Homo sapiens: one gene and its partner. The protein of the gene in region 1 interacts with the protein of each later gene in a pairwise test. Each region holds a gene or a part of one and is shown in the gene's direction. Other genes may lie near its edges.

Evidence for each region.
Region 2: the proteins of MAN2C1 (region 1) and PRRC2A interact in a two-hybrid assay, tested with the Homo sapiens proteins (one study listed by BioGRID and IntAct).

Annotation. Positions count from the first base shown.
Region 1 is NC_000015.10:75,355,203-75,370,845, reverse strand, and holds MAN2C1 (alpha-mannosidase 2C1), read left to right. Parts: upstream 1-2,238; 5' UTR 2,239-2,262; coding exon 2,263-2,363; intron 2,364-2,647; coding exon 2,648-2,773; intron 2,774-3,211; coding exon 3,212-3,335; intron 3,336-4,253; coding exon 4,254-4,324; intron 4,325-6,180; coding exon 6,181-6,358; intron 6,359-6,657; coding exon 6,658-6,847; intron 6,848-8,097; coding exon 8,098-8,204; intron 8,205-8,392; coding exon 8,393-8,503; intron 8,504-8,898; coding exon 8,899-8,991; intron 8,992-9,125; coding exon 9,126-9,242; intron 9,243-9,464; coding exon 9,465-9,560; intron 9,561-9,654; coding exon 9,655-9,800; intron 9,801-10,157; coding exon 10,158-10,281; intron 10,282-10,634; coding exon 10,635-10,756; intron 10,757-10,857; coding exon 10,858-10,943; intron 10,944-11,070; coding exon 11,071-11,226; intron 11,227-11,407; coding exon of another isoform or gene 11,408-11,420; coding exon 11,421-11,518; intron 11,519-11,654; coding exon of another isoform or gene 11,655-11,692; coding exon 11,693-11,787; intron 11,788-12,037; and 18 more. UniProt on the Homo sapiens protein: Cleaves alpha 1,2-, alpha 1,3-, and alpha 1,6-linked mannose residues on cytoplasmic free oligosaccharides generated by N-glycoprotein degradation pathways.
Region 2 is NC_000006.12:31,611,459-31,627,224, forward strand, and holds the start of PRRC2A (protein PRRC2A), read left to right. Parts: upstream 1-9,256; 5' UTR 9,257-9,400; intron 9,401-11,231; 5' UTR 11,232-11,331; coding exon 11,332-11,443; intron 11,444-11,620; exon of another isoform or gene 11,621-11,752; intron 11,753-12,273; coding exon 12,274-12,451; intron 12,452-12,802; coding exon 12,803-12,902; intron 12,903-12,991; coding exon 12,992-13,064; intron 13,065-13,712; coding exon 13,713-13,856; intron 13,857-14,001; coding exon 14,002-14,153; intron 14,154-14,333; coding exon 14,334-14,413; intron 14,414-14,561; coding exon 14,562-14,704; intron 14,705-15,313; coding exon 15,314-15,404; intron 15,405-15,523; coding exon 15,524-15,740; intron 15,741-15,766. Other genes in the region: AIF1 (allograft inflammatory factor 1), read left to right, coding at 3,872-3,896, 4,063-4,124, 4,212-4,278, 4,646-5,052. UniProt on the Homo sapiens protein: May play a role in the regulation of pre-mRNA splicing.

The DNA of each region.
Region 1 (15,643 bases):
AACAGGATTTTGCTTAAAATACTTGTTACTTGTCCCAAATCAAAATATTCCAAAATCTTAGAATACTTAAGTCTTTTAGTACGTGTTTTTTTCCCTTGTTCAAATAATCTGAAAATATTTTATATTTGGGTAAGTTGTCAAGCTATGTAGTTTGTATTTCTATATATTTTTTCTTATTCACATTGGTGATGGATGGGGGTGAGCAACTTAAATACCAAACCAGTGTTTGAAAAAAAAGTGTGCATAAGGCATGTGGTATACCTTATAAATGGAGTTGGGAGGGAGAGAATTTGAAATGGGATACCTATTTTTTTAATTACATAAATTTAAACTAGCAGACATTTAAACATGAATGATTAGGATTTTTCTATGTGGTTAACCTGGACTTTCTGAACAAAGACCAACTGAGCCCCTCCCAGTACTCTGGTGGATTTTTCTTCAGCAACCATTACGCAAGTCTTAGTTGTAACCAGCAATGTTCTGTGTGTTTTATGTTTGCTTTTTAGTTAAAAATCACCACCACCACCAAAAAGAAAAACAAAATTTTTTGGCTCCTGGATTTTCAAAACACATGGTAGACCTCTCTGATTTTAGGCTTTTATTGTTTAAAGACAGTGTCTCGCTTTATGACCCACACTGGAGTGCAGTGCCACGATCATAGCTCACTGCAGGCTTGACCTCCCAGGCTCAAGCAGTCCTCCCACCTCGGCCTCCTGAGTAGCTGCATGCCACCACGCCCAGCTAATTTTTTAACTTTTTGTAGAGACAGGGTCTTGCTATGCTGCCCAGGTTGGTCTCAAACTCCTGGCCTCAAGCTGTCCTCCCACCTCGGCCTCGCAAAGTGCTGAGATTACAGGTGTGAGCCACCCTGGCCTGATTTTAGGCTTTTTTTGTACTGGGGAGAAGAGACTGTGAGCCAAAGTGTAGGGTGCCAAAAAGAGCTTTGTGGGATGAGATTTTAGGGCAAAGCTGGGGCAGTGTCTGACTTGGCGGTGGTCATGTGTACTGATTTAGGGGAAAGATCTTGAGGTTTTCTCAAATAATTCACCTATCCCCGTGTTCCCTCAAGAAAGGTCATGTTGACCTGGAACCATAGGGGAAATTGGTGGGGTGTGATCAGGGTCAGCCCCAGCTGTTGCTGCCCCTGCAGTGTTTTGTCCAGAGCACTTGCCTGCAGGTCAGGATAGGATTTCAAGGCCAGTTCAGGAGAAAGTCCCAACCCACCAGTGCAACCAACAAAAGAGTAAGTTTTACCTACAGCCTGGGTTTTCACAAGTAGCATTTTTATTCCTCCTGCTGTCTGACATCTGAGCTCCAAGCTCTAAACCCAACCTGTATTATATGCAGCAGCAGGTTATCTTTGTTTTAAATCACATTTGTTATTCTGTACTTAGTCACCTTTCCGTGTGATCTGCATTTGAAATGTTGTAAACTTGGTCAGTATTTCCATTAAAATATCAGGGCTAATCTTGTGTATTTTTTTTTGTTCCTAATGATTTTATAGACAAAGACTCTTGGCAACCCCAGGAGAAAAAAAATAAAGCTGTCAGTGGAGTACTAGGGATGAGAATGAAACTGGAGGTCTGTTTCTGGTATTATGGCTTCCCGGGACTCTACAGTCCTGTATGGTGAAATACATTTTTCCATTGGGATCGTCAATGCCATGACTGTTCTGCCACCTCAAACTCCAGAGTTTCTGGTGATGTGCAAGAGTTAGCAATATACATTCAGTAAAGCGTGTAATCGAGTAAGTCGTAGTAACTTGGGCGTAAAGCTCTACCACCCTGCTCACTAACACCCTGATCTCCGTCCGGTATGAAAACACCTATTCCGGGTAGTCTGGCTCCACGTTAAGCAAACACCACTTTCCGTGTTCACCGACAGCTAGAGCCAGAGGTCTCCCGGTTGCTGCTTCTGAGGCTGGGTCTGCAGCAGCTGAGGCTCCCGCCTGTCTTGCCGAATGGCCTAAGTCTCTGTCTTGAGACTTTCGAGAGTTCTAATCGTCAAATTTCCCATTTTATTTTGAGATTTTCCCTGCGGCCCACTATTTCGGACAACATAGGAGAGCCTCAAAAACAGTTTCTAGCTTCCAACTCGGCTCAAAGTTCAGACAGCAGCTGGGCTTCCGAGAGCCGCCGGTGTTCCAAGAAAAGCTGCCCGGGACTGGGAGGCGCCCTCTGGACGCCGGAACCTTTGGTTTCCTGCCGTGGAGCGGAACGGTAGCGCCAGGGGCCTTCCGGAAAGAGGAGCGAGAGCCCGGCGATGGCGGCTGCGCCGGCCTTGAAGCACTGGCGCACCACGCTGGAGCGGGTGGAGAAGTTCGTGTCGCCGCTCTACTTTACCGACTGTAACCTCCGCGGCAGGTGTGGCCCCTGGTCCCCCGCAGCCGGCCGACCGCAACCGTGCGCCTCAAGCTTTCCTTCCGGGGAGAAACCTAAGCTGCAGCCACCCGGGCCGCGGGACAAAGTGCCCGCCGCGGGCAGGGCAGGGGCCGGGGAGGAGGGGGTAGGGAATGGACTGTGCCGCGGAGCGGCCAGGCAGCCCTCTTGGCGGAGGATCCAGGGAAAGTGCGGCCCCACCGGCCAGCTGGCCCCCAGGCGGAAACGGGGCGGCCTCCAGCATGTGCCCACCGGCCCGTCCCACGCAGGCTTTTTGGGGCCAGCTGCCCTGTGGCTGTGCTCTCCAGCTTCCTGACGCCGGAGAGACTTCCCTACCAGGAGGCAGTCCAGCGGGACTTCCGCCCCGCGCAGGTCGGCGACAGCTTCGGACCCACGTAGGTAACGCCCAGCGGGTGGGCGGGGCCACAGGCCTAGGGGAAGTCCCAACCCAGCTCCCAGCCACACCTTCGTTGTCTGCCCTCTGCCGTAGACAACTACGTGGGATCGAGCAGCACCCTCTGCTGGGAGCAGCACCCTCTGCTGGGAACAGCTCTCTGGTCCCTGGGTCTTCAGGGGATGGTTTTCATTCCCACGTGGCCGCCTCTGGACATCCCTTAGGAAGGGCACCCTAGGGATCACGAACCTTTGACGCCTCTGCCTGTTTCCCTCATCTTGCTTCTCACCTTGTTGCTCCTTTCTTGTGACTCAAAGCTGAGTACCTTGTGACACTGCAGATGCTTGGAGAGTTTCAAGCCCCTGCCGACACTTTATCCAAGGAAGGATATCAGGATAGGACTTCTACCTCTAGGCCTATCACAACAGCTCTCTTGCAGATGGTGGACCTGCTGGTTCCGGGTGGAGCTGACCATCCCAGAGGCATGGGTGGGCCAGGAAGTTCACCTTTGCTGGGAAAGTGATGGAGAAGGTCTGGTGTGGCGTGATGGAGAACCTGTCCAGGTGAGGAACCCTGTCCTAGGGCCAGGTATGGCCACATTTCAGCCCTGAAATGACTACAGCCCTTCTTCTGTGGACTCTGGAGAAGCCACAGCTGAGTTGCTCTGCCCACAGGGTGGTATCAGGATTTCAGGACTAGGGAAGTTGCCACTTGGGCATCTGTGCAATTGGTCCTTAGTTTTTATTGTGTATAATACAAACTTATAGGAAAACATTTCAAACAGTTCTAGATAAAGTAATGGATCTCTCCTTATCACCCATCCCATTCCCCAGCTATAACCACTGTTAAGTGTCTTATTCATGCTCCACCCTTATCAGGTTTAGTCCTTATACTCCTATCTAGTAGGTCTTTATACCCATTTACAAATTAAGAAACAGATGTGTAGTTGACTCACTCAGGTTCACACAGCTTCTATTTCAAATTGGACTGACTCTCAATCTGGGGTTAAGACTGTTCTTCCTGGCTACAAGAAGGCAGAGACCATCCCTTCCTCCCTTCACTGGCTCAGCAAATATCTCCTGGTGTCCATTCTGGGCCATACCCTTAAGCACTAGGGTGTAGCAGGGAATGAGGCAAACCTGCCCCTGACTTCACGGAGTTTCTTTCCCGGTATTTATTTAGGGGTGCAGAGGCCACCAGAATCCACACTCAGGCTGCCTAACCCCTTCCCAGGGCCCTTCCCATAAGACCATGGGTTTGCCACTGGTAAACAGGGGCTATTTGACGGTCATGGTGCTGGCTGCCATGGGAGTTGGGGCATCTACTGCCAAGGGTCCCTGATTTGCCAATCTTGGCCCTGCTTGGGAGAGAGGACCCAGAGCTGGGAACCAGATGGAGGGGCCTGACTCCCCATGGCTTACACTTTACCTGAACTGTCCAAAAGCCTCAAGCCTTGTCTCTCTCACTCCCCTCCCTACTAGGGTTTAACCAAAGAGGGTGAGAAGACCAGCTATGTCCTGACTGACAGGCTGGGGGAAAGAGACCCCCGAAGGTGAGTCCCTGTGCCCTGGTTGACCAGTGCTGTCAGGGAGGGAGTACCAGTGAGCAAGGAGGAGCTGAGGCCCAGAGTGATCTCATAAGCCCGCCTCTGCTCTAGCACAATCATCCTCACATCTCATTGTTTGCTTTTAAAAGCATGATTTTTTCCTAACCATAAAAATAATGGGCTGGGTGCAGTGACCCACACTACCCTGGGAGGCTGAGTGGGAGGATCACCTGAGCCCAGGAGGATGAGGCTGCAGTGAGCCATGATCACACCGCTGCACTGCAGCCTGGGCAACAGAGTGAGACCTTGTCTCAAAAATAATAGCAATGTTTGCCTGTGGTAAATACAGGAAAGCACAAAGAAGTAAATAACTACCGTTATTCCACTCCCTAGAATAGAGATGAACATTATTAACATCTCAGCATTCATGTTCTTTTTTTTGAGACGAAGTCTCCCTCTGTCGCCGATGCTGGAGTACAGTAGCACGATCGCAGCTCACTGTACCTTCTGCCTCCCAGGTTCAAGCGATTCTCATGCCTCAGCTTCCCGAGTAGCAGGGATTACAGGTGTGTGCCACCACGTCCAGCTATTTTTTTTTTATTTTTGGTAGAGAAAGGGTTTCACCGTGTTGGCCAGGCTACTCTCAAATTCTTGACCTCAGGTTATCCGCCCCTCTCAGCTTCCCAAAATGCTGGAATTACAGGCGTGAGCCACCGCACCTGGCCCAGTATTCATGTTCTTGGTGTATCTTTCCGGCATAGTTTTTTTTGTTTTTTCGGGGGGGTTTTTTTGGATTTTTTTGAGACGGAGTTTCGCTTTTGTTACCCAGGCTGGAGTGCAATGGCACGATCTCGGCTCACTGCGACCGCCGCCTCCCAGGTTCAAGCAATTCTCCTGCCTCAGCCTCCCTACTAGCTGAGATTACAGGTGCCCACCACCATGCCCAGCTAATTTTTTGTATTTTTAGTAGAGACGGGGTTTGACTCTGTTGGCCAGGCTGGTCTCAAACTGCTGACCTCAGGCTATCCACTTGCCTGAGTCTCCCAAAGTGCTGGGATTACAGGAATGAGCCACCGTGCCCGGCTCATCCCGGTATAGTTTTTACTAGTTAAGATTGTATCCTGACTTCTTACATTCCATGTTATAACATGGACATTTTATGACACCATTAAAAACACTTCTTAGACATTATGAATGTATTTTATATAGATTGACACTGTTTCAGATGCTTTCAGACACTGGGAGTATGGTGGTGAATAAAATAGCCCTTGCCAACAAAGGGAGACAGATTCACTCATATAATTACAAAACTGAGGGCTCTGGAAGGAAATCCTGGGTACTCCACTGAGGAATTTGCTCTAGACTTAGCAGCGAAGTGGAGTCAGGAAGGCCTCCCTAAGGAAGTCGTGTTTGCTCTCTGAAGCCTAAGTATGGCATCACCACAGCCCAGCCTGTTCTCCAATGAATGGCCCGCCCATGTTGGCCGTGTTGGTTTTAGATCTTGGGTCTAAAAGTTTGAGCCTGGGAGATCCGAACATGATTTTAATATGCAAAGAGGGTTCCAAGACCAAGGCAGTGCTTTGCAAAGACAACTTTGGAAATATAAGACTAAACAGCAGCGTACTTTACATGGTTCCAAACTTTGCTACTTATTCTCTCTGACAGCAAGACATGGGATCCATCTGGTGTTTGTACCACAACCCTCCCACATGCACTCTTGTCACACTGTGGGATCCTCTGGGTAGTGGATCCTGGAAGCAGACAGGTTGGGCTCAGCTGGATGCCTCCTGGGTGCCCCTTCCCCAAGTCCCCGGAGTACTGTGCCAGTCCCTTAGCCTGAGGCTGTCTCCCCATCTTTGTAGCCTCACTCTCTATGTGGAAGTAGCCTGCAATGGGCTCCTGGGGGCCGGGAAGGGAAGCATGATTGCAGCCCCTGACCCTGAGAAGATGTTCCAGCTGAGCCGGGCTGAGCTAGCTGTGTTCCACCGGGATGTCCACATGCTCCTGGTGGATCTGGAGCTGCTGCTGGGCATAGCCAAGGTACTTGACACCCCCTGTACCCCCTGCTACCCTCTAGAGCCCTGCTCCAAGAAGGTTGTTCTTTGGGTCAGATAAATGGGACTCTGGGAATCCAGAGTAGGACGAGGGTTTCCACCTGCTTGAGGGTTGAGAGAATTTTCCTATGTGAAGGGGAGGAGGGAGACGGTGCTGAGCAGGGGGACCAGCAGGGAAAAAGGGTTGGGGGTCAGGGGAGCTCTGCTGAGAGCCCTGAGATCAGTGGAGCCTAGGTCTGGAAGCTGTGCTTGAAAAAGGGATTAAGGGGCAGAACCCTGCTGCAGGGCCTCGGGAAGGACAACCAGCGCAGCTTCCAGGCCCTGTACACAGCCAATCAGATGGTGAACGTGTGTGACCCTGCCCAGCCCGAGACCTTCCCAGTGGCCCAGGCCCTGGCCTCCAGGTTCTTTGGCCAACATGGGGGTGAAAGCCAACACACCATTCATGCCACAGGGCACTGCCACATTGATACAGGTAGGACAGCAGCTGGTTGGGCTGGCTGGGGAAGCAGGAGTGCCCTTGAAGACCTGGATGTGCCCTAGAAGCACTGTGTGATGCTCAGCAAGTTCTTGCTCCTCTTGGACCTGCGTTTTCCCCGTCTGTAAAACGGGGCCGGGGGGCTGGACTGTGGGCTCTGCTTGCTTTGGATTCACTTTTTTTTTTTTTGAGACGGAGTCTCACTCTTGTCACCCAGGGTGGAGTGCAATGGTGTGATCTCGGCTCACTGCAACCTCTGCCTCCCGGGTTCAGGCGATTCTCTTGCCTCAGCCTCCTTAGTAGCTGGGATTACAGGCACCCACCACAATGCCTGGTTAATTTTTGTATTTTTAGTAGAGACGGGGTTTCACCACGTTGGCCAGGCTGGTCTCAAACTCCTGACCTCAGGTGATCCGCCTGCCTTGGCCTCCCAAAGTGCTGGGATTACAGGCATGACCCACCGTGCCCAGCCTCATTTATTCTTTCAACAAAATCTGATGCCTCATGGGGCCCATGCTAGATATTGAGGGTAGGATTACAGAGACAGATTCAGCAGGCAGAGTTGGTGTCACAATGGTGGGGAGTCTGAGGCACTGGAGAGCACAGGAGAGGTACTTACTCCAGCTGGGTTGGGGGATTCCAGAGAGGCTTCCTGGACAAGTTTGCAGTGTCTGAGTTTTACGGGAAATCCACATTTTTAACAAGCTCCTGAAGGTATTGATTCTGATGCAGCCGAAGTTTTGGGATCACAGAACAAGGGCTTTCTCTGCTGTGCCAAGATGTAGGGTAAGGTGTGAGAGGTTCTGGGCTGGTAAGGGAGGAACTGCAGCCTGGGAGTCAGGAGAGGCTGTAGCACCTCTGGTAGGACAGCTGGCTCCATCCTGGGAGCCATGCCTCTGTTCCCAGGTATACATCAAGTTTGTGCAGGGGCAGGGTAGTCCCTGCTACTTCTCGTAGGATCCTCTAGGGGATGTCTAATTCCCCAAGAGGACTGAGGCTATTCTGGGGCCTGGAGCCTCCATTTCCTGACCTGTATAATTGGCCTCATAGCACTGCCGCCTCCTTTCCCCAGCCCCTCCTCCCACCTCGCTGGAGTGAAGTGAAGTGACCACTTAGGAGGGACACCACAGGGCTTTCCAGGGTGAAGGGCCTGGGATGGGAGGGGGGCTAGGTGACCCTCTGGAGTCCCAGCCCAGGCCTGGTCAGCCTTGCTGCTCCCTCTGTCCTCCACCTCACTCCCCGTATAGCCTGGCTTTGGCCCTTCAAAGAGACTGTGAGGAAATGTGCCCGGAGCTGGGTGACCGCCCTGCAGCTCATGGAGCGGAACCCTGAGTTCATCTTTGCCTGCTCCCAGGTCAGAGGGACAGCTGTGAGGGAGGAGGGAAGCACGTGGCCCTCCCTGGAGCTCCACAGGCCCTGAAGGCTTCCCAGGCCTGGGGTCAGGGCTGCTCCTCACCCTCAGCCACACACTGAGTCCCATATGCTCAGTCCTGGGTGGGGCCCTTGTCACTCTGGTCCCAGCTCCCTTCAACCTGCCCACAGGCGCAGCAGCTGGAATGGGTGAAGAGCCGCTACCCTGGCCTGTACTCCCGCATCCAGGAGTTTGCGTGCCGTGGGCAGTTTGTGCCTGTGGGGGGCACCTGGGTGGAGATGGTAAGTGCACTGGGCACTCCTCAGCCTTGAACTGTATGACAACAGCCTTCCCTCAGGTAGCCCCGCCCTCCCGGCTTTGCTGGTGAGTTTCCACGGGCCACTCATCCCCGCTGTGTGGCAGGGCTGGCTCATTAGTCCCTGGGATCTCAAGGCCTGGGACTTCAAGGGGGAGGAGAGCCTCCAGCGCTGTGACAAGTTGCATGGCCTAGTCCTGGGCACCCCCTCAGGCAGATGGACAGTCAGGCCTGAAGGACAGGGGCCCTTCCTGAGTTCTGGCTGTAACTCCCATGTTTGAGCAGCCCTGGCTTCTCCTGCAGGGATTGGGTTGGCCTGAGCGCCTGCCTGCTCCCCGTCCAGCGCTGACCTGGGCTGCCTCCCACTTCCTTCACTGCCAGGATGGGAACCTGCCCAGTGGAGAGGCCATGGTGAGGCAGTTTTTGCAGGGCCAGAACTTCTTTCTGCAGGAGTTTGGGAAGATGTGCTCTGAGGTAGGCTGAGAGCTGCTACACCAGGCTGTGGGCGAGTGGGGCTGGCGCTCGACTTGGAGTGCTGAGGGGCTGAGGCTGGGGTGAGTCCGCCTGGAGCTCTGGTTCCTGCACTCCAGGATCCTCTTTCTCCACAGTTCTGGCTGCCGGACACCTTTGGCTACTCAGCACAGCTCCCCCAGATCATGCACGGCTGTGGCATCAGGCGCTTTCTCACCCAGAAATTGAGCTGGAATTTGGTGAACTCCTTCCCAGTAAGCAGGCCCCCGGGGGGTCAGGGTCAGAGTGGGCCTCAGTCCCGCCTGGCCCATTTGCCTCTCCCCCTTATTGTGGGGTCCTAGACAGACCACCAAACCCTCACTCTGCCTCTGCCAGGGTCACATAGCAGGCAGGGGCAGGACCAAGTCTGGAAGGCCTGGCTCTGCCTCAGCCCTGACTCTGGCCTCTCTGCCCTGCTTCTGTTTCCCTGCTGGTAGCACCATACATTTTTCTGGGAGGGCCTGGATGGCTCCCGTGTACTGGTCCACTTCCCACCTGGCGACTCCTATGGGATGCAGGGCAGCGTGGAGGAGGTGAGGGGTCACCTAGGGTGGTGGGGTAGGGGCAGGCTGGAGAGGGCTGGCTTGTTCCAGGCTGATCCATGCTGGCCTGCCCTCACCTGTCTAGGTGCTGAAGACCGTGGCCAACAACCGGGACAAGGGGCGGGCCAACCACAGTGCCTTCCTCTTTGGCTTTGGGGATGGGGGTGGTGGCCCCACCCAGACCATGCTGGACCGCCTGAAGCGCCTGAGCAATACGGATGGGCTGCCCAGGTCAGGCCAGGCCTTGGCTCTCCTTTAGCCCCACCCTGGGCCCTTGCCATGAGCCCTGCCTTCCCTCAGACATTGGGCCCAACCCCTCCTCTGGACCTTGTCCTGTCCCAATCCTAGACCACGGGTTCCTCCAAACTTCCACCCTGGGGGTGGGTGGGGGAGAAGCTGAAGCTGGTAAGGGCTCCAGCCCATCAGAGAGAGAGGCTCTCCTAGGGCGTCCAGGGCTGGCCATCTGTGAACGGGGAGCTTTCTGGAGTGGCTCCTCTCTGTAGGAGCTGGATCCTTTGCTTTGGTGTGGAAGAAGGGTGAGCCATGTGGTCTCCAAGGCTGGGAGACCTAGGCTTGTGGTCTCCTCAGGGTGCAGCTATCTTCTCCAAGACAGCTCTTCTCAGCACTGGAGAGTGACTCAGAGCAGCTGTGCACGTGGGTTGGGGAGCTCTTCTTGGAGCTGCACAATGGCACATACACCACCCATGCCCAGGTCAGGGGGAGGTTGCAGGGCTGTGCAGGGAGGGTGTGCCCTTGATCTGCAGAGGGTCAGAGAAGGCAGCAGGGGACAGAGCCCAGGCCAGATCTAGGGGAAGAGAAGTTTGGAGGAGAGAAGTTCAAGACCTGGGTTGGTCAAGAAAGCTTGAAGGAGGCAGAAACCCCTGAAGAAAGAAGGGTTTGGGCTGCGGGGAGAAGAGGGAAGGCATTTAAGGCAGGTCACCCGCCAGAGGCCTTCTCCACGAGGCCCTTGGTGAGTCCTCAGGGATTCTGAGCAAGGGAGGGCTTTGGAAGGTGTCCTGGGACAGCTAAGCAGGCTCCAGACTAATCTTCCCATCCTGGGCTCAGATCAAGAAGGGGAACCGGGAATGTGAGCGGATCCTGCACGACGTGGAGCTGCTCAGTAGCCTGGCCCTGGCCCGCAGTGCCCAGTTCCTATACCCAGCAGCCCAGCTGCAGCACCTCTGGAGGTCAGCCCAGTTCTGTCCCTGCCATCCACCTGACTGCTCACTGCAGTTACCTCTGTGCCTGCCCCTCCCAGCCTTCCCATCCCTGCCCTTGGCCCCTGCAGGCTCCTTCTTCTGAACCAGTTCCATGATGTGGTGACTGGAAGCTGCATCCAGATGGTGGCAGAGGAAGCCATGTGCCATTATGAAGGTTAGGCTCACAATAGTCCTGCCTGCTCTCTCCAACCCCAGGGCTGAGCCCAGAGTGTCCCCTGTGGGATACCCATGGGCACATTCCAGACCTGTTGCCCACCTATGACCAGCCAGTCTTTCCTCAGACATCCGTTCCCATGGCAATACACTGCTCAGCGCTGCAGCCGCAGCCCTGTGTGCTGGGGAGCCAGGTCCTGAGGGCCTCCTCATCGTCAACACACTGCCCTGGAAGCGGATCGAAGTGATGGCCCTGCCCAAACCGGGCGGGGCCCACAGCCTAGGTACGAGCTGAGGGGAAGGGTTGCTACTGCAGCAGGAAGGATGGAGGCCAGACAGATCAGGCCTGGGATACCCCGAGGGATCTGGGTGCCCCTGACTGGAGAGTAGTAGCACATCTTCCACCAACCCATCCCCACCTGCGCAAGCTTCCTGAAAGGTCAGGAAGGCTGCACTGATGCCCAGGCCTCACCCCCAGCCCTGGTGACAGTGCCCAGCATGGGCTATGCTCCTGTTCCTCCCCCCACCTCACTGCAGCCCCTGCTGCCCCAGCAGCCTGTGTTCGTAGTGCAAGAGGTGAGTCCTGCATGCCCTGGGGGGCAGGAACTGTGCTGGGATACTTTCTTACAACTGAGGGTCCTGAGCTCCCCTGTCTGGAGCAAGTGGTGAGGCGGGGCTGGGGTTGGGGTGGGAAGACTTTTGGTGTGGGAAGCCCCTACAGACTCAGCCTCAAGGCCTCCTCCCACAAAGACTGATGGCTCCGTGACTCTGGACAATGGCATCATCCGAGTGAAGCTGGACCCAACTGGTCGCCTGACGTCCTTGGTCCTGGTGGCCTCTGGCAGGTGCCAAATCCTCATTGCCCTTTCCCAGTGCCTGGCAAGTAGACCCCAGGCCATTTCCTCTCTCCCCTTGCCACAACACTGCCCACAGCAGCCCACCAGTGGCTCTGGGCTGGAACCCACACATGGAGCAGGGCAGGCTGGGCAGTAGTCCCCTGTCCACTGGGTCTACTCACTCCACCCTACCCCACCAAGAGCAGCTGGAGACAGCGAGGTCAGTTGGTTGTACAGCACCAATCCCATGTCCTTCCAGGGAGGCCATTGCTGAGGGCGCCGTGGGGAACCAGTTTGTGCTATTTGATGATGTCCCCTTGTACTGGGATGCATGGGACGTCATGGACTACCACCTGGAGACACGGTATAGGCTGGGCAGCATGTGGGGATGGTGGAGGTGGTGGGAACACAGGCTGCTCTGGATCAGTATGTCCACCCCTGTCCCATAGGAAGCCTGTGCTGGGCCAGGCAGGGACCCTGGCAGTGGGCACCGAGGGCGGCCTGCGGGGCAGCGCCTGGTTCTTGCTACAGATCAGCCCCAACAGTCGGCTTAGCCAGGAGGTTGTGCTGGACGTTGGCTGCCCCTATGTCCGCTTCCACACCGAGGTAGTCGGGGGGTAGGGGGTGGCTGTTTTCCCCAAGTGTGCTTGGTAAGGAGGGGCCAGCCCCAGGCCTTGGTGTGTCTCTTCCTTCCCTGACTCCCACCCTCCTTCCCACTCCCAGGTACACTGGCATGAGGCCCACAAGTTCCTGAAGGTGGAGTTCCCTGCTCGCGTGCGGAGTTCCCAGGCCACCTATGAGATCCAGTTTGGGCACCTGCAGCGACCTACCCACTACAATACCTCTTGGGACTGGGCTCGATTTGAGGTCTGACATGGCAGGGTGGGAGTGGCCTTGGACTCCTCCCTGGCTGGGGAGACTGCTTGTGTGGAACAGGCTGGGGAGGAAGAGGATAATCAACATTTGCTGCTTCCTAACGTGTGTGCCAGGCATTGCACTAAATGCTTTACATTGGCAAGGCACAGTGGCTCACGCCTGTAATTCCAGCACTTTGGGAGGCCGAGGTGGGTGGATCACCTGAGGTCAGGAGTTCAAGACCAGCCTGGCCAACATGGTGAAACGCCATCTCTACTAAAAATACAAAAATTGGGCCGGGCGTGGTGACTCACGCCTGTAATCCCAGCAGTTTGGGAGGCTGAGGTGGGTGGATCACGAGGTCAAGAGATCGAGACCATCCTGGCTAACACGATGAAACCCTGTCTCTACTAAAAATACAAAAATTTAGCCGGGTGTGGTGGTGGGCGCCTGTAGTCCCAGCTACTTGGGAGGCTGAGGCAGGAGAATGGCGTGAATCTGGGAGGCAGAGCTTGCAGTGAGCCAAGATCGTGCCACTGCACTCCAGCCTGGGCGACAGAGCGAGACTCTGTCTCAAAAAAAAAAAAAAAAAAAATACAAAAATTGGCCAGGCGCAGTGTTCTCAGGCCTATAATCCCAGCACTTTGGAAGGCCGAGGTGGGCGGATCACGAGGTCAAGAGATCGAGACCATCATAGACAACATGGTGAACCCCCATCTCTACTAAAAATACAGAAAAATTAGCCAGGCGTGGTGGCACATGTCCTGTTATCCCAGCTACTCGGGAGGCTGAGGCAGGAGAATCGCTTGAACCCTTTAGGCGGAGGTTGCAGTGAGCTGAGATTGTGCCACTGCACTCCAGCCTGGCAACAGAGTGAGACTCCATCTCAAAAAAAAAAAAAAAGCCGGGCGTGGTGGCACATGTCCTGTTATCCCAGCTACTTGGGAGGCTGAGGCAGGAGAATCACTTGAATCCTGGAGGGCGGAGGTTGCAGTGAGCCGAGATCAAGCCACTGCACTCCAGCCTGGGTGACAGACTGAGATCCTGTGTGAAAAAAACAAAGTTTTACATTTAATTTGATACTCATGATCATTCGATGGGGTGAGTACTATTATTTATTCCCGTTTCACAGATAAGGAAACTGAGGCTTAGGCAGGTTGGGTGGCATGCCCAGGGCCCCGTACAGTGGGAGCTGGAGTTCAGTTGTGTGGTTCTAGAGCTTGTGCTCGGCCTAGTGACAGGAGCTCTGGAGTCTGGGAGCACAAAGAGGGGCACAGGGCCACCAAGTGGGTCTTGGATCTGCCCTCCAGGTGTGGGCCCATCGCTGGATGGATCTGTCAGAACACGGCTTTGGGCTGGCCCTGCTCAACGACTGCAAGTATGGCGCGTCAGTGCGAGGCAGCATCCTCAGCCTCTCGCTGTAAGTGGGGTACCCACCAGGCCTGGGAGCTGGCATGGAGAAATGGGTCTTCCCGACCACAACTCCAACAGCTTCAGCGTGGCCCCTACGCGCCCTCCTCACCCCAGCTTGCGGGCGCCTAAAGCCCCGGACGCTACTGCTGACACGGGGCGCCACGAGTTCACCTATGCACTGATGCCGCACAAGGGTGAGTGCTGGGGACGGTGGGGCCTTCCTGCAGCCCTAGACACCTCTCTGCCCTTCCCTGAGCCCAAACCCCAGCAACCTGGCTTCCTGCCCCTTCTAGGGACAGGGGAGGGTAGCCCCCATTCTCCACCAGCATTGTTTCCTGGTCGTACCCCAGGCTCTTTCCAGGATGCTGGCGTTATCCAAGCTGCCTACAGCCTAAACTTCCCCCTGTTGGCTCTGCCAGCCCCCAGCCCAGCGCCCGCCACCTCCTGGAGTGCGTTTTCCGTGTCTTCACCCGCGGTCGTATTGGAGACCGTCAAGCAGGCAAGGGGTGGGACGTGCTGGGGACGGGGTTCCGAACTGGGCCTGCCCTCGGCCCCTCCCACCAGACGTGTTCCTCTGCAGGCGGAGAGCAGCCCCCAGCGCCGCTCGCTGGTCCTGAGGCTGTATGAGGCCCACGGCAGCCACGTGGACTGCTGGCTGCACTTGTCGCTGCCGGTTCAGGAGGCCATCCTGTGAGTGGCGGTGTGGGATTGGGGCGGGGGTCGAGTCTCGCCCTCGCAGAGCCTTCATGGCCCCTCCTGTTCTCCAGCTGCGATCTCTTGGAGCGACCAGACCCTGCTGGCCACTTGACCCTTCGGGACAACCGCCTGAAGCTCACCTTTTCTCCCTTCCAAGTGCTGTCCCTGTTGCTCGTGCTTCAGCCTCCGCCACACTGAGTCCCTGGGGCTGGGGTTTTGTTTGTAGAAGGCTCTGGGGACTCCTAATTTCTGCTTCCCCAGCCTAAAGCAGGGATCAGTCTTTTCTTGTGGAATAAATCCTTGGATCGGGAACCCTGCTGCTCAGTCCCCTTAGGGCCCATCCTCACGCTTGGGGTGGGGGTGGGAAGTCTGGGGTGGGATGGCTTCCCAGGTATTTGGTGGGTAGGGGCAAGATCCTAAGGTACCTGTGCGTGCAGGGTCTGGGTTGCAGCCCCCACAGGAGAGACTGGGGACCTCGAGCCACCAAAAGCCAGTGAAGAGACCATGAGTTGAGAAGCCCCTCCCCTGTGCCAGCAGGTAAAGGGCCTGGGCCTGGGGCTGGGGAGGGGCCGAAGGGTGGGTTTTGCCTGGCTCCTGCCAGGATGAGGGGGCAGCCCTGGACCCTGGAGAATCTGGACTGGAGGAGCTCTGGCTCCTGGGCTGCCTGGGGCCAGGGTCTTTGTACCACCTCTGAGGGGCTGTCCTTGCAGAGGCAAACTGTCCTCTGATAGAGTCAGAGCCTTGAGGACTGGGATGGGGGCTCAGTTTGCCTTGTGAGGAGCTGGGCCTTCTGTCACCAGGACCGGACAGCAGGCCCTTCCTACCTGGCCATCTCAGACCAAGAGGTGCCAAGAAGTTCAAATGTATCAGTTTATTAAAAATGCAGCATTTTTCACATGAG
Region 2 (15,766 bases), on another chromosome or scaffold:
ATAATCTCAGTACTTTGGGAGGCCAAGGTGGGTGGATCACAAGGTCAAGAGATCGAGACCATCTTGGCCAACATGGTGAAACCTCGTCTCCACTAAAATTACAAAAATTAGTTGAACATGGTGGTGCGCACCTGTAGTCCCAGCTACTTGGGAGGCTGAGGCAGGAGAGTCGCTTGAACCCAGGATGTGGAGGTTGAAGTGAGCCAAGATCGCGCCACTGCACTCCAGTCTAGCGACAGATGGAGACTCTGTCTCAAAAAAAAAAAAATAAGTATTTTTCTTTCTAGCCGTATATCCACCTTACATGGTCCCTCAACTCCCCAAGCCCACTCTGCCTGCCCCATCTCCTCCTTCCACATCCTCTCCTCAACCTAGCACTTGGTTGGCAATGCCTTCCTCGATCCTCTGCCAAAGACCCTCTAGCCAGTGCTTACCCTGTCTGTTCTCTCTCTTTACCCAAAGAAATACATAAAGTTTGACCAGAATGGAAACAGAGATATCAGTGAAAAAAGGTGATTTGGGGAAGTGTGCAGGCCTAGGAAGACAGAGGCTTGTTCCTTTGCTTGCTTAAAATCTTTGATCAAACGGCCAGGCGTGGTGGCTCACACCTGTAATCCCAGCACTTTGGGAGGGCGAGGTGGGCGAATCATGAGATCAGGAGTTCAAGACCAGCCTGGCCAACATAGTAAAACCCCGTCTCACTAAAAATACAAAAAATTAGCCAGCTGGGCGTGGTGGCAGGTGCCTGTAATCCCAGCTACTCTGGAGGCTGAGGCAGGAGAATCACTTGAACCCGGGAGGTGGAGGTTGCAGTGAGTGGAGATTGCACCACTGCACTCTAGCCTGAGTGACAGAGTGAGACTCCATCTCAAAAAAAAGAAAAGAAATCTTTGCTCAAATATCACTTTTTCAGAGAACGCTTCTCTAACCACTCTATTTATTTTATTATTTTATTGTATTTTTTGAGACAGGGTCTCACTCTGTTGCCCAGACTGGAGTGTAATGGCACGGTCATGGCTCACTGCAGCCTTGATCTCCTGGGCTCAAGCGATCCTCTCACTTCAGCCTCCCAAGTGGCTAGGACCACAGGCGTAAGCCACCGTGTCTGGCCAGACCACCATATTTAAAACTGGGGACAAGTCAGGCTCACACCTGTAATCCCAGCACTTTGGGAGGCCAAGGTGGGAGGATCACAAGGTTAGGAGTTCAAGACCAGCCTGGCCAACTTGGTGAAACCCCATCTCTACTAAAAATACAAAAATTAGCCGGGTATAGTGGTGATCGCCTGTAATCCCAGCTATTCGTTAGGCTGAGGCAGGAGAATCGCTTGAACCCGGGAGGCAGAGGTTGCAGTGAGCTGAGATTGTGCCACTGCACTCCAGCCTGGGCAACAGAGCGAGATTCTGTCTCAACAAAAAAAGCTGGGTGCAGTGGCTCACGCCTGTAATCCTAGCACTTTGGGAGTCCGAGGTGGGTAGATCACCTAAGGTCAGGAGTTCAAGACCAGCCTGGTCAACATGGTGAAACCCCGCCTCTACAAAAATACAAAAATTAGCTAGGTATGATGGCAGGTGGCTGTAATCCCAGCTACTCGGAAGGCTGAGGCAGGAGAATCGCTTGAACCCAGGAGGCGGAGGTTACAGTGAGCTGAGATCAAGCCATTGCACTCTAGCCTGGGCGACAGAGTGAGACTCCGTTTAAAAAAAAAACAAAAAACAAAAAACAAAAAACTGGGGACCATTGGCAATAATACTCCTATGTCCCCTCTTCCCTACTTTGTTTTCCTCCATAGGCACCTGGCGCCTTTTTTTTTTTTTTTTTTTTTTTTTTGAGACGGAGTCTCACTCTGTTGCCCAGGCTGGAGTGCAATGGCGCGATCTCAGCTCACTGCAACCTCTGCCTCCCGGGTTTAAGCGATTCGCCTGCGTCAGCCTCCTGAGCAGCTGGGATTACAGGCACGCACCACCAGGCCCTGCTAATTTTTGTATTTTTAGTAGAGATGGGGTTTCACCATGTTGGTCAGGCTGGTCTCCAACTCCTGACCTTGTGATCCGCCTGCCCCAGCCTCCCAAAGTGCTGTGATTACAGGCGTGAGCCACTGCGCCTGGCCACCTAGCACCTTTAATATACTTATTTATTTGTATTGTCTGCCTTCCCCAATTAGATCAACCATGAAGACAAGAGTTTTCATTTGTTGGGTTCTCTGGGCCTAGAGGCATGTCTGGCATATAGTAAGCATTCAGTAAATATCTGTTGAGTGAACGTATGAATAAAGAAGTGAGTTCCTCCCAGCAGGCACTGAGAACATTGGGAGTACAGGGTTGCAGCTCTCTCTGCAGCAGGAGAATGTAGCTGCAATAAAGGGAAGTCAAGAAGCCAGAGTCCAGCCAGGTGCAGTGGCTCATGCCTGTAATCCCAGCACTTTGGGAGGCTGAGGTGGGTGGATCACAAGGTCAAGAGATAGAGACCATCCTGGCCAACATGGCGAAACCCCATCTGTACTAAAAATACAAAAATTAGCTGGGCGTGGTGGTGGGCGCCTGTAGTCCCAGCTACTCAGGAGGCTGAGGTAGGAGAATTGCTTGAACCCAGGAGGCAGTGGTTGCAGTGAGCCGAGATTGCACCATTGCACTCCCGCCTGGGCGACAGAGCAAGACTCCGACTCAAAAAAAAAAAAAAAAGCAGCAGCAGCAGCCAGAGGCCACTCCAGCATCTCCCCTACCTGGCTTGGGTCAGGGAGAGGGCAGTGAGAAGTGAAAACTCCCAGCTACAGAAAAGGAAATATGTTGGGGGGAAGGGAGAAGGAAAGGTGTCTTCATCAATGCCGGGGCAGGGTAGATGGAGCCCTGGGCAGGGAGTTTGGACCAGGAAATCTCAATGAGGGAAATGTGCTGTCCTCACCTCTCCAAGAAGCGACTGGCCAAACAGAGTGACAGAGGGGATAAAGGTTATGCCTAGGGAGGCATGTGTCAGAGGCTATCATCCACTCTGTTGAACCCACAGTGACCAGCACCACCATCACACAAACATGCCTGCATGTGTGCACGCACGTGCAGTGTGCAAACCTGATGTCAGCCTCACTCCCTGGCTCTTCTGTCCACAAACGCTGTTTCTTTAAGTACCACTTTCAGTTCCTCCAAAGAATCTACTTAAACTCTTAAATTCCTGATCTCTATAGATTTTACTAAAGATTTCAAAGGAGATAAGATGAGAGGGTTACGTTGCACATTCTAAAGCAAACAAATTAAAATGTTTTGTTAGACATTTCCATATTTTTAAGGGCCTCCTTGGAGCTGCCAGGCTGGGAGTGAGGTTTCTCTCCCTTTCTAAACCCTGTGCCCATCTTGTCACCCTCCTGGAGCTGCCAGCAGACTTCAGATTCTTCTCCGATCTACAGAGCAGAAAAATTCAGCCAGCCCTTCCTTGTCTTCCTATCCACAGCTGCCTGCCCAGACTCATGAAACCTGACAAAATGCAAGGTCTTATCATTACCTGAACCTTGGACCTGTTCAAAAATACTAGTTCCTGAGAATAAATATCCCTGGTGTCTTCCTGCCCTTCCTGCACACCTCCAGTGGCTTATCAAAATATTTGTTTCATGCGCACACTGGGCTCTCATTTAAGAGGAATTTGGGAGAATGTTATTTTCTAATCTGCATTTCACACCAGGCTCCCCCTCCTTCCTGGGGTGCTAGTGTCAGCAGAACCTGATGGGGAAGTGAGGTCTGGGAGGCAGAGGAGGAAGGAATGAGGGGAAAGGGGAAGTTTGGGAGGAAGGCTTCTGAGAAGACTGGTGGGAGAGAAGGAGAGCCTGCAGACAGAGGCCTCCAGCTTGGTCTGTCTCCCCACCTCTACCAGCATCTGCTGAGCTATGAGCCAAACCAGGGATTTACAGGGTAGGGAGGGTGGGATAGGCAGCGGCATTAGATCGGAGGAATGAGATGGACAGACCTGGGCTGTGGGCTAGGAGGGCAGTCAGCTGGCCTAGGGTAGCCCGGGCTGGTGTCAGGGTAAGGAGAGGAAGGGAGGGATGAGGGCTGATTAATTTTTTTCACCCCACAGGAGGAAAAGCTTTCGGACTGCTGAAGGCCCAGCAGGAAGAGAGGCTGGATGAGATCAACAAGGTAGAAGGAAGAACTAAGGGGGCAGAGCCAGGGGGATGGGGCGTGGATGGGGAGGGCCTACCCTGGCTCTTATTTTCCCCTCCATAGCAATTCCTAGACGATCCCAAATATAGCAGTGATGAGGATCTGCCCTCCAAACTGGAAGGCTTCAAAGGTGAGGGGGAAACTGTAGGCGGTGGAGACAGGGCTGGGGGTAGGAGGGTTAGGATTTCCACAAGAACAAGGCAGGAACAGCAGAGATAAAAAGTTTACTTTTGTGGTAGCAAAAGGGGAACCTGCCTTTATTGCCCTCCTGCCACACTGCGGTCCCTTTCCCGGGCCTGCCTCTCTCAGCATCCCCTCTAGCTCCTTACACCCTAGCGGGGCCCCTCAACTCCCCAACCCCACTTCCTCTGCCTGCCCCTCCTCCTCCTTCCACGTTGTCTCCTCCACCTAGCAGTTGGTTGGCAACCCCTTCCTCAGTCCCCTGCTGAAAACCCTCCAGTCAGCGCTTATCCCTTCTGCTCTCTCCCCTCACCCAGAGAAATACATGGAGTTTGACCTTAATGGAAATGGCGATATTGGTGAGAAACGGGTGATTTGCGGGGGCAGGGTGGTGTGCAGGCCTAAGAAGACAGAGGTCTCTCCTACATGCTCCATTCCTCATGATTTGGGAGGGGGCCCACCTACCACAGTGGGAGGAAGGAGAATGGGGATGCGGAAGTGGGAGAGGAGAGAGAGGGTCTCCCCACCTTCTCCCCATCCCCATCCTCTGCCCCCAGATATCATGTCCCTGAAACGAATGCTGGAGAAACTTGGAGTCCCCAAGACTCACCTAGAGCTAAAGAAATTAATTGGAGAGGTGTCCAGTGGCTCCGGGGAGACGTTCAGCTACCCTGACTTTCTCAGGATGATGCTGGGCAAGAGATCTGCCATCCTAAAAATGTGAGTGTCAATTTCCAACCTCCCCTGTACTTACCTGTTTTCTCCTCCCCCATCCCTACCCTTGTCCACAGGCTCAACATTTCTACACGTTGCCCATCATCCCTTCTTCCATCCTTAGAGGGACCCTTCCAAGGTCCCGACCCCATCCCTATCCATAGTCCTGGTCCCCAGAAACTCCAACCCCTGCCCTTCCTCTTCCCCCTTCCACCCTCACATCCCCATCCCCTTCTAGCCTTTCCTAGCACCCTATGATTTATTCCCTTGAGAGGAGTGTTCCCTGATCCCTGTGCCTCTTCCCATCTCAACCAGGATCCTGATGTATGAGGAAAAAGCGAGAGAAAAGGAAAAGCCAACAGGCCCCCCAGCCAAGAAAGCTATCTCTGAGTTGCCCTGATTTGAAGGGAAAAGGGATGATGGGATTGAAGGGGCTTCTAATGACCCAGATATGGAAACAGAAGACAAAATTGTAAGCCAGAGTCAACAAATTAAATAAATTACCCCCTCCTCCAGATCAAGTCAGCTTAGTTTTTATTTGGGTGATTTTTTTCCTGGGTTTGGGAAGGAGAGACAGGTCTTGAGGGAAAGGTGGCAAGGATTTGGCCATATGAACAATCCATCAACAACGCTATAGTGTGTCCACTACAGCAGATGGTTTCACGCACCAAGGGGGATTCCAGCTGTGTAAGACAGCCTTAACCTCAAAGAATGCAGGCAGGTCAAAAACACATGTCCAAACAAGGTACTCAGGCCCATGACAGATTTCATGAAGAGCAAGGAATACCATGAACCAACATTCTCCACCACTATAAGCTTTGTCACTTTGACAAATCACTCAGCCTCTGTGAGGCTTTTTTCTAAAAATGGGGATAAAGTGACCTATGCTATTGTGCCTGACATATCATAAGCCCTCAATAATGTTTAAAACTTGAATGAGCCGGGGCCGATGGCTTATGCCTGTAATCCCAGCACTTTGGGAGGATGGGGTGGGCAGATCACCTGAGGTCAGGAGTTCGAGACCAGCCTGACGAACATGAAGAAACCCCGTCTCTACTAAAAATACAAAATTAGCCTGGTGTGGTGGCGCATGCCTGTAATCCCAGCTACTTGGGAAGCTGAGGCAGGAGAATCTCTTGAACCCAGGAGGTGGAGGTTGTGGTGATCCGAGATCGCATCATTGCACTCCAGCCTGGGCAACTAAAAAGCGAACTCCGTCTCAAAAAAAAAAAACCGAACATACAAACAAACAAAAAACACTTGAATGGGTAGATGAATGAAAGAACTGGTGCTATTAAATAAAGCAAAGAATTTACAGCTGGGCGTGGTGGCTCACGCCTGTAATCCCAGCACTTCAGGAGGCCGAAGCGGGCAGATTACCTGAAATCAGGAGTTGGAGACCAGCCTGGCCAACATGGTGAAACCCCATCTCTACTAAAATACAAAAAATTAGCTGGGCATGGTGGCAGGTGCCTGTAATCCCAGCTACTCGGGAGACTGAGGCAGGAGAATCGCTTGAACCCGGGAGGTGGAGGTTGCGGTGAGCCGAGATCACGCCATGGCACTCCAGCCTGGGTGACAAGAGTGAGACTCTGTCTCAAAAAAAAAAAAAAAAAAAAAAAAAGACTGGAAGGAGAAACTCATTGGAGACAATGACTATGGACATCCCTTTTAAGAATTTTGCTGCAAAGGGTAACAAAACGGTATGTGTGGTAGCCGGCCGGGGAGAAGGGAGAAGAGAATCATTTTGGAAGTTTGAAAACAGAAGTCATCTTAAATCTTACTGAGCCTCTGACTAAAATTCTCATCTGATTTCCGCAAACTTTTCTGCCTTCACTTTTCATAATGAATAAGCCGCCTCCTTTATTTAGCCATATCAGCCTAGGCACAGGCCCCCAAACTCATGCCTCCACTAATCTGTTCTCTGCACCTGAGATGTACACCTTCTTCTGAAACTTGGGTAAGTTCTAACTCGTTCTTCATATCTATTTATTTATATATTTTTGACAGATATCTACTCCGATCATTCTTCATATCATTTTTTTTTTTTTTTCCTGAGATGGAGTCTCATGTTGGCCAGGCTGGTCTCCAACTCCTGACCTCAGGTGACCCACCCACCTTGGCCTCTCAAAGTGCTGGGATTACAGGCGTGAGCCACTGCTCCCGCTCCCGGCCCTTTTTTTCTTCTTTTTCTTTTTTTTTTTTTTTTGAGACGTAGTCTCACTCTGTCGCTAGGCTGGAGTGCAGTGGCGTGATCTCAGCTCACTGCAACCTCCGTCTCCCAGGTTCAAGCGATTCTCCTGCCTCAGCCTCCCAAGTAGCTGAGACTACAGGCACGCGCCACCAGTCCAGCTAATTTTTGTATTTTTAGTAGAGACGGGGTTTTGCCATGTTGGCCAGGATGGTCTCCATTTCTTGACCTTGTGATCTGCCCGCCTCAGCCTCCCAAAGTGCCAGGACTACAGGCATAAGCCACCACGCCCGGCCTCATATCTCTTAATAAGAGTTTTTCTAGAAACATTTCTCAATCACCCCAGGCATAATCATATTTTATTTCTCTACTTCTTTCTTTTTTTTTTTTTTTTGAGATAGAGTTTCGCTCTTGTTGCCCAGGCTGGAGTGCAATGGCACGATCTTGGCTCACCACAACCTCCGCCTCCCAGGTTCAAGCGATTCTCCCGACTCAGCCTCCCGAGTAGCTGGGATCATAGGCATGCGCCACCACGCCTGGGTAATTGTATTTTTAGTAGAGACGGGGTTTCTCCATGTTGGTCAGGCTGGTCTCGAACTCGTGACCTCAGGTGATCCGCCCGCCTGAGCCTCCCAAAGTGCTGGGATTACAGGCGTGAGCCACCGCGCCCATCCTTCTTTTTTTTTTTTTTTTTTTTTTTTTTTTGAGACGTAGTCTTGCTCTGTCACCCAGGCTGGAGTGCAACCTCCGCCTCCCTGGTTCAAGGAATTCTCTGCCTCAGCTTCCCGAGTAGTTGGGATTACAGGCGCCCGCCACCACGTAGGGCAAATTTTTGTATTTTTAGTAGAAATGGGGTTTCATCATGTTGGCCAGGCTGGTCTTGAACTCCTGATCTCGTGATCCACCTGCCTAGGCCTCCCAAAGTGCTGGGATTACAGGCGTGAGCCACCGCGCCAGGCCTTATTTCTCTACTTCTATAATATCCTGTGCATTATCTCCAGCGCCTTCAAATCATAGTCATTGAATGATCTGTTGAATGGGTATAACTCTGATGGGAGCAGAGAGTTCTAGAATCGGGTAGTAAGAGACAAAGGAGGGTAACAGTACTGCATTTCACAAAATGAAACCCATTGTTAAGAAATTACAAATTCCCAATAATTTCAAATATAAAAATTTATTCATGAAAATTATAGGTTATAAAATTAAATGTCCGTCTTAGTCGATGGTTGCCCATATTTTGATGAACGAGTCATTCCTAGCCTATCTTTGTTCAAATGATTTGCATACATTATGCAAATAGGTAGAACTGCCCGAAGAATGCCTACGCTGCGTGGTGCGGACGAAACGCTTCCCGGGGCCTTTGGATTGGTCTGTCTAGCCACCTCATTTGCATGACGTAATATAATAACTGGAAGGCCCCGCCCCTCTGGTGCATTTCCCCGCTCCAACCACCTCCTCAAACTCACGGCAAAGGGATGCGAGAGCTGGAACTCTTACCAGGCCTGCGGAAACTCAGCCCTCCGGCAGCTAATCCCGCCCGCCAGCCCCCGTCCTCTCTCTCTTTCTCCCTAGCTGAAGGCGCCACGGGCCGTGTGTCGTTGCCTTCCACTTTTGGCGTCCCAACGTCTCTCCGCTCCCATCTTTCTACTAACGTCCGACGCACGCTCCGCCTCTTTCTCCCACATTCGTCGTGTAAATTCTGCGTCCCAACCGCCCAGCCGACCTGCACCGCATTCCCGCCCCCTCAACACGGCTCAACGGCCGACGCTGGGGGCCCGCCTCCTTAGCCAATCGGGGTCCTAGTGCCCTTAAGTCCCTCCTCTTTATGCAAATAACCTCCGCATGCTCCGCGCGCCCGGCCCTTTTTTTTTTTTTTTTAAACTAAAGACAGCCCTGGAAGTAGAGGGTTAGGGTAGAAAGTGCCCCGCCCTTTATGCAAATTAAGGGGCGTGTCTAGGCGCGGAGGGAGGTGGGAGGTGGGAGGGGGTGCTCCCGGGGGCGGCGGTTGCCCGGATGGGCCGTTAGTCGGGGCTCAGCCGCGGAGTGAGCGAGGGAGACGGGAGGAGCCGAACCCGGCGCCATCCGCCGCCATCCTCCCCCGCCCCACCGCCATCCCGTCCCGGGGAGCCCCTAGGCCCGGGTCCCGGATCCCCGCGCACCCGGCCAGGTGAGTCTGGGTGAACCGTGCGCTGACGCCCTTTTCCGGCGCGGGAGAGGTGGTGGCGGTGGCGGTGGCGGCGGCGGCGGCGGTGGTGGGCCGGGGGGAGGAGAAGCTGCCATTAGCCGCCGCCATTTTGTCCTCCTGCTGCCGGGCCTGCTTGCCCCTCCCCCTCCGGTACCTCTACTCCGGGACCCGCACCTCCGGCAGTTCATTCAGGATCCGTAGTCTGCCCCTAACCACCCACCGTCTTGGCTTCAGGGGGTGACCCCTGCGCCTGGGTCCGTAACTCCCTACCCTCCGCTGCGCTCCTGGCTTTTCACCCCCATTTGTGGGCCCCCTCCCCGGCTGCCGCCCCGTGGTGGTGGGCCGCGCCCGACGGTTCTCTCGGAAGGGCGCTTTTCCTCCATATTGGACCCCCTCCTATCATCCAGCGCTGTGTTCCCCCCTCTGGACGCCCCTCTTCGTGTCGAGCCACTCCCACTCTAGAATCCTGCTTTTATCCCAGCATCTTTGCTTTCTATGTTGCTCAGTCGCCCTATGTCTGCTTTTTCATTTTTCCTGTTCCTCGTCTCCTTTCTCCCCCAACCCCGTTTTTCTTCTTGGGCCTCTGCCCCCTTACTTCGTTGTCTACATCCTTTTTTTTTTTGCCATTCCTGTTTCCATATATTTTCCACCTGCTTTCGTATTCATTATTTTCTGTTAGTTTTGGTCTATTCGCTACATGACTCTTGTATTCGTTTTCCCTTCATATATTTATCTTCACAGATTGGCCTCCTCAAACACCTACGAAGCAACATCCATCTTATCTCTAGCTTGTCATAAAGTTCTTTCTCCCCAATTTTAGCTTTCATTCTGGGCCTGTCTGGATTTCCCTGCTTTCTTCCCCACTATTTCTCATCTCTTTACACTGTTCCCGTCCATAAACGAATGCCTGGTCACTCTGGAATGGACTGAGAGACCTGTCGTCCGGCTTGCTTAGGGAGCTGGAGGTATCGAGTAAAGAAACACTGGTGATGGACATTTTTAATGAGGATAGGAAAACGAAGATGGCTCTGGCCTTGGCCCTCTGTTTTCTGGCCCATGGTTACAGGGTGCTAAGGTGGCTCCATAATGCTTTTTCTCAGTTCTTCATATGGTAAAACAGTATTTCATCTGGAGGCGATTTTTTCCAGGAGCCAATACAGGAGCAAGTTTAGGAAAAGATGGGATATTTCAAATACTTGAGGTTCCTATAGCCTGGGAGTATGTACAGCCCTAGTTGTTCTATGAGGATTTCTCTGGTACCAACCCCCATTCCGGCTGAGCAAGCTCATAAAATCCTTAAACTCCCAGCATACCTTCCTGCAAACCTTCCCAGATGGACACGAGGCTGCTGGGCTGGGAGCCTGGGGTACAGGGCCCTGGGGGCATGATTAGGGAGCTTGTGTCCAATAAACAGGGAATCTAAAGTGTTGTTTCTTCTTCTCTGATGGAATTGTATGCTTCTTTTTTAGTTTTCTCTTGCTTGAATTTGTCCTGTTGTAAGTCTCTGAAACGATTTTGGTGGAGAGAGAAGAGATTATTACTTGTAGGGAATTACTCTTTGTAGACAGGCACAAAGGGCAGAGTGTTTATACTAGGAGGATGCTGGATTTTTACTTAGATTTCCTTGACAAAGGTGTCTGGGGGAAAGGAGGGAACATGGCATTTGAGCTATGAGGGAGCTAAGTAGATCATGGTTGCTTGAGAAGAGTGGGCAGTTTACATAGACTGGAGGAAAAGACACCAGAGGGCCTCATATCTGAGTCCCTAATGATAATGCAATGGAGTTTTTAAGTTTCTGTTATGGTCTGTACAGGGGACAGAGACTGAGACACTTGCTGTCTGGCCCACAGGCTCTGGCACGTTTTGGGGGAGGTGCCTGCAGGACCCAACATACTCAATGAGCTTCCAGCGCAATGTCCGATCGCTCGGGGCCGACTGCCAAGGGAAAGGATGGAAAGAAGTATTCCTCGCTCAACCTGTTTGATACGTATAAGGGCAAGTCCTTAGAGATCCAGAAACCCGCTGGTGAGAGTCCTGCAAAGATGCTTCTGATGGTTGAAAGCTAGGCATGCATGGGGCATACGTTTTAGAGCTCTTTAAAGGGAAGTGGCTGTAGTAGAAATACCAAAAGACTAGAGGAGATTTCCCAACTTTACACTGGGTCCTTTAAAGGGGGTGTGGGCTCTGGGTGAACACCAGTTATCCTCCTACAAAGGCGTGTCTGTGGTTCCCTGTCTTTGGACACGTAAGAATTGGAGGAAAATAAATGTGGATTTGGGAAACTTTGAGGCCAGCTTGCTTCTTGCAGGCTCATGATCAACCAATCTCACATAAAAGTATTGAATGTTACATATCTCAGCCTTCTTGATAGGGATTTCATAGATTTTTTTTTTTTTTTTTTTTTTTTTGAGACCAAGTTTAGCTCCTGTTGCCCAGGCTGGAGTGCAATGGTGTGATCTTGACTTACCACAACCTCCACCTCCTGGGTTTAAGCGATTATCCTGCCTCAGCCTCCTGAGTAGCTGGGATTACAGGCATGCGCCACCACACCCGGCTAATTTTGTGTTTTTAGTAGAGACAGGGTTTCTCCATTTTGGTCAAGCTGGTCTTGAACTCCTGACCTCAGGTGATCCGCCTGCCTCGGCCTGCCAAAGTGCTGGGATTGCAAAGTGTGAGCCACCACAATCAGCGCGATTTCAGAGATTATTAAGGGCAGGGGAAGGAATCCCTTCTAAGAGAAGTTTGGAGGAAGTAGGTAATAAAATATTCAACATGTATAAATGTGTCCCAGGATAGGAGGCCATCAGATCTCCCACATGAGGCATTTTCGACCCTCTCTCCGTCTTGTTCTCCAGTTGCCCCTCGCCATGGCCTGCAGAGTCTCGGGAAAGTTGCCATTGCCCGGCGTATGCCACCTCCAGCCAACCTTCCAAGCCTGAAAGCCGAGAACAAAGGCAATGACCCCAATGTCTCACTAGTGCCAAAAGACGGAACAGGATGGGCAAGCAAACAGGAGCAGTCCGACCCCAAGAGGTAGACAGAGGCTTGGGGGACCTAGAGTGATGGGTATTTTAACTTGAACTTCAGGGAGCATTGGGGCTTGGTTTAGTCCAGCCACGTCTGAGCCAGAGACGAAGAGGTCCCTTTCTTACCTATTGCAGGTTCCTTGTTAAATGACTAAGGAATGGTACTAAACTTTAGCTTTTTGTCTTGGAGAGAGAGCATGAAAAAATAGACAACAGCCTACAAAGGATGACAAAATTAATTTGTCCTTATATTTGTAAATGGTAGCAATGGGCATGATTTCAGTCCTGAGTCTCCACCAGTTGGAGAAGTCAGGGAGGCATCTCAGGTGTGAATAACCTTCCCATTCTGTCCCCTCAGTTCCGATGCCTCAACCGCTCAGCCGCCGGAATCGCAGCCACTGCCGGCTTCACAGACGCCTGCCTCCAACCAGCCGAAACGACCCCCAGCAGCCCCCGAGGTACCTGGAGAACTGGAGGGGTGGGGAGGAAGAATGGTTCATAGCTGCCCCACCCACATCATTTATCATCTTTCTGAACACTTCCCCAGAACACTCCTTTGGTTCCAAGCGGGGTAAAGTCCTGGGCACAAGCCAGCGTCACCCATGGAGCACATGGAGATGGTGAGTGCAGCACTTAATTGGGGAGCTGTGTCTGGGCACCATGGGATGCATGAACCCTGCACTGTATTTTCAGCCAAGTGACCTTGGTCCTCTTTGGCTAAATCAAGGACCACCCATATTCAGTTTCATGGAGGCACATGAGCAAGTTTAAGTCTCAGTCTTATATGATGGAGTGTAGTGGTGCCAGAACTGACCTCCTTGGGGAATAAGCAGTTATTCTGTAGGGGGGTGAGTTTGAAGGCGGGAAACCTGATGGTCTGGTACCTGTCAGAGCCTTCCACTTTTTTTTTTTTTGAGACGGAGTCTCATTCTGTCACCCAGGCTGGAGTGCAGTGGCGCAATCTCGGCTCACTGCAACCTCTGCCTCCTGGGTTCAAGCGATTTTCCTGCCTCAGCCTCCAGAGTAGCGGGACTACAGGCACACGCCAACACACCCAGCTAATTTTTTGTGTGTTTTTAGTAGAGATGGGGTTTCACATGTTGGCCAGGATGGTCTCGATCTCTTGACCTCGTGATCCGCCCGCCTCAGCCTCCCAGAGTGCTGGGATTACAGGCGTGAGCCACCGCGCCCAGCCAGAGTCTTCCACTTTTATAGCATGTCCTCAGGAAATGTCTTCTGTCTCCTGTTCTGCATCCCCATCCTAATAGGTGGAAGGGCATCAAGCCTACTGTCACGATTCTCTCGAGAGGAATTTCCGACCCTGCAGGCGGCTGGCGACCAGGACAAGGCTGCCAAGGAAAGGGAGTCTGCCGAACAGTCGTCTGGGCCCGGACCAAGCCTCCGCCCCCAAAGTGAGTGGCTGCCTTTTGGCCAAGACATTACCTATTGCATCTCAGAGCTAGGTGCTGGCTTATTCACCTTCCTCCCCATCACTTTCAGCTGTGTTCACTTGTCCTCCAATCATTGATACCTCTCTCTACCTTTTCCAAAATACAGATTCTACAACTTGGAGGGACGGAGGTGGGCGTGGCCCTGATGAGCTGGAGGGCCCGGACTCCAAACTTCATCATGGTCATGATCCCCGGGGTGGGCTACAGCCTTCAGGCCCACCCCAGTTCCCTCCCTACCGCGGAATGATGCCGCCTTTCGTGAGTCTTGGTGTCTTGTCTTGGAACGATTACACTGGAAGCTGGAGAGCTAGGAATCAGGACTTAGTCTTTGACCTATGAGATAGAAGGGAGGGTGGGAGGATGATTGATAGCAGGCTTAAGGAGCTAGAAGGGTATATGACTGTCCCTCTGAGCAGCTACTGTTGGACCCTTTTACAGATGTATCCCCCATATCTCCCGTTCCCTCCGCCCTATGGACCCCAGGGGCCTTACCGATACCCCACTCCTGATGGGCCCAGGTGAGCAATCCAGGTCTGGGTTTGTGGCTGGGGGCAGGGGAAGCTTATTGGGGGAGGAGATGGTTTTCTAGCCAGGAGGCTCAGTCTAGGATCAGTCTCGCATGTGGTTATACAACATGCCATATTTCATTTTCTTTTTTGTGTACAGCCGTTTTCCCCGTGTGGCGGGCCCCCGAGGCTCAGGGCCACCAATGCGCTTAGTAGAGCCTGTGGGTCGTCCCTCTATTCTCAAAGAGGATAATCTCAAAGAGTTTGATCAGTTGGATCAGGAGAATGATGATGGTTGGGCAGGTAAGTGGATATTAAGGGTCAAGAATTTGGATCTTGAAAGGCAAAACCTAATGAGGAAAAAAAAATACAGGGTTATGTGGGTGAAAGGCAGACATTGAAGTGTAGGAAGACCAGGCCCAATGGCTCACATCTGTAATCCCAGTGCTTTGGGAGTGTTAGGTGAGAGGATCGCTTGAAGCCAGGAGTTCAAGACCAGCCTGGGCAACACAGCAAGACCCCCCACCTCTACAAAAAAAAAAAAATTTTTTAGTTGGGTGTGGACTGTGCATCTGTGGTCCCAGCTACTCTGGAGGTTGTGGTGGGAGGATCAGTTGAGCCCAGGAGTTGGAGGTCACAGTGAGCTATGATCGTGCCACTGAACTCCATCCTGGGCAACAGAGCGAGACTTTTAAAAGGAAAAAAAAAAAAGAGTAGGGGAGGATGGATGGGGAATACCAAGTCCTTGCAAAGTGGTGAGAGGAGTAAGAATGACAAGACTTCATTGGTGGATCTAGACTTCGGAGGGAAGGATATTGGCATTGGTAGTCCATCTTGTTACATAGTTCCAGACTACCTCCCAAGATTGGAGGGCAGAATGCTTGGGTTACTAATACTCATATTTCCCCTCAGGGGCCCATGAAGAGGTTGACTACACTGAAAAGCTCAAGTTCAGCGATGAGGAAGATGGGCGAGACTCTGATGAGGAGGGTGCTGAGGGCCAGTGAGTTAGGGCCATCAGGGGAGAAGAGGAGGGGGTCTTGGTTTGTATTTTGGTAATATACTCTTAGAGGAGTATATTAGTTGCAGCTGATTTTAATTTCACTGTTGATCTGCTCACAGCAGGGATTCCCAATCAGCTTCTGGTGAGGAACGGCCCCCTGAAGCAGATGGCAAAAAGGGCAACTCCCCCAACAGCGAACCGCCCACTCCTAAGACGGCCTGGGCAGAAACCTCTCGGCCTCCAGAGACAGAGCCGGGACCTCCTGCCCCAAAGCCTCCCCTACCCCCACCTCACCGGGGCCCCGCCGGGAACTGGGGCCCCCCTGGGGACTACCCAGTGAGTGTCTCCAATAAGGGATTGAG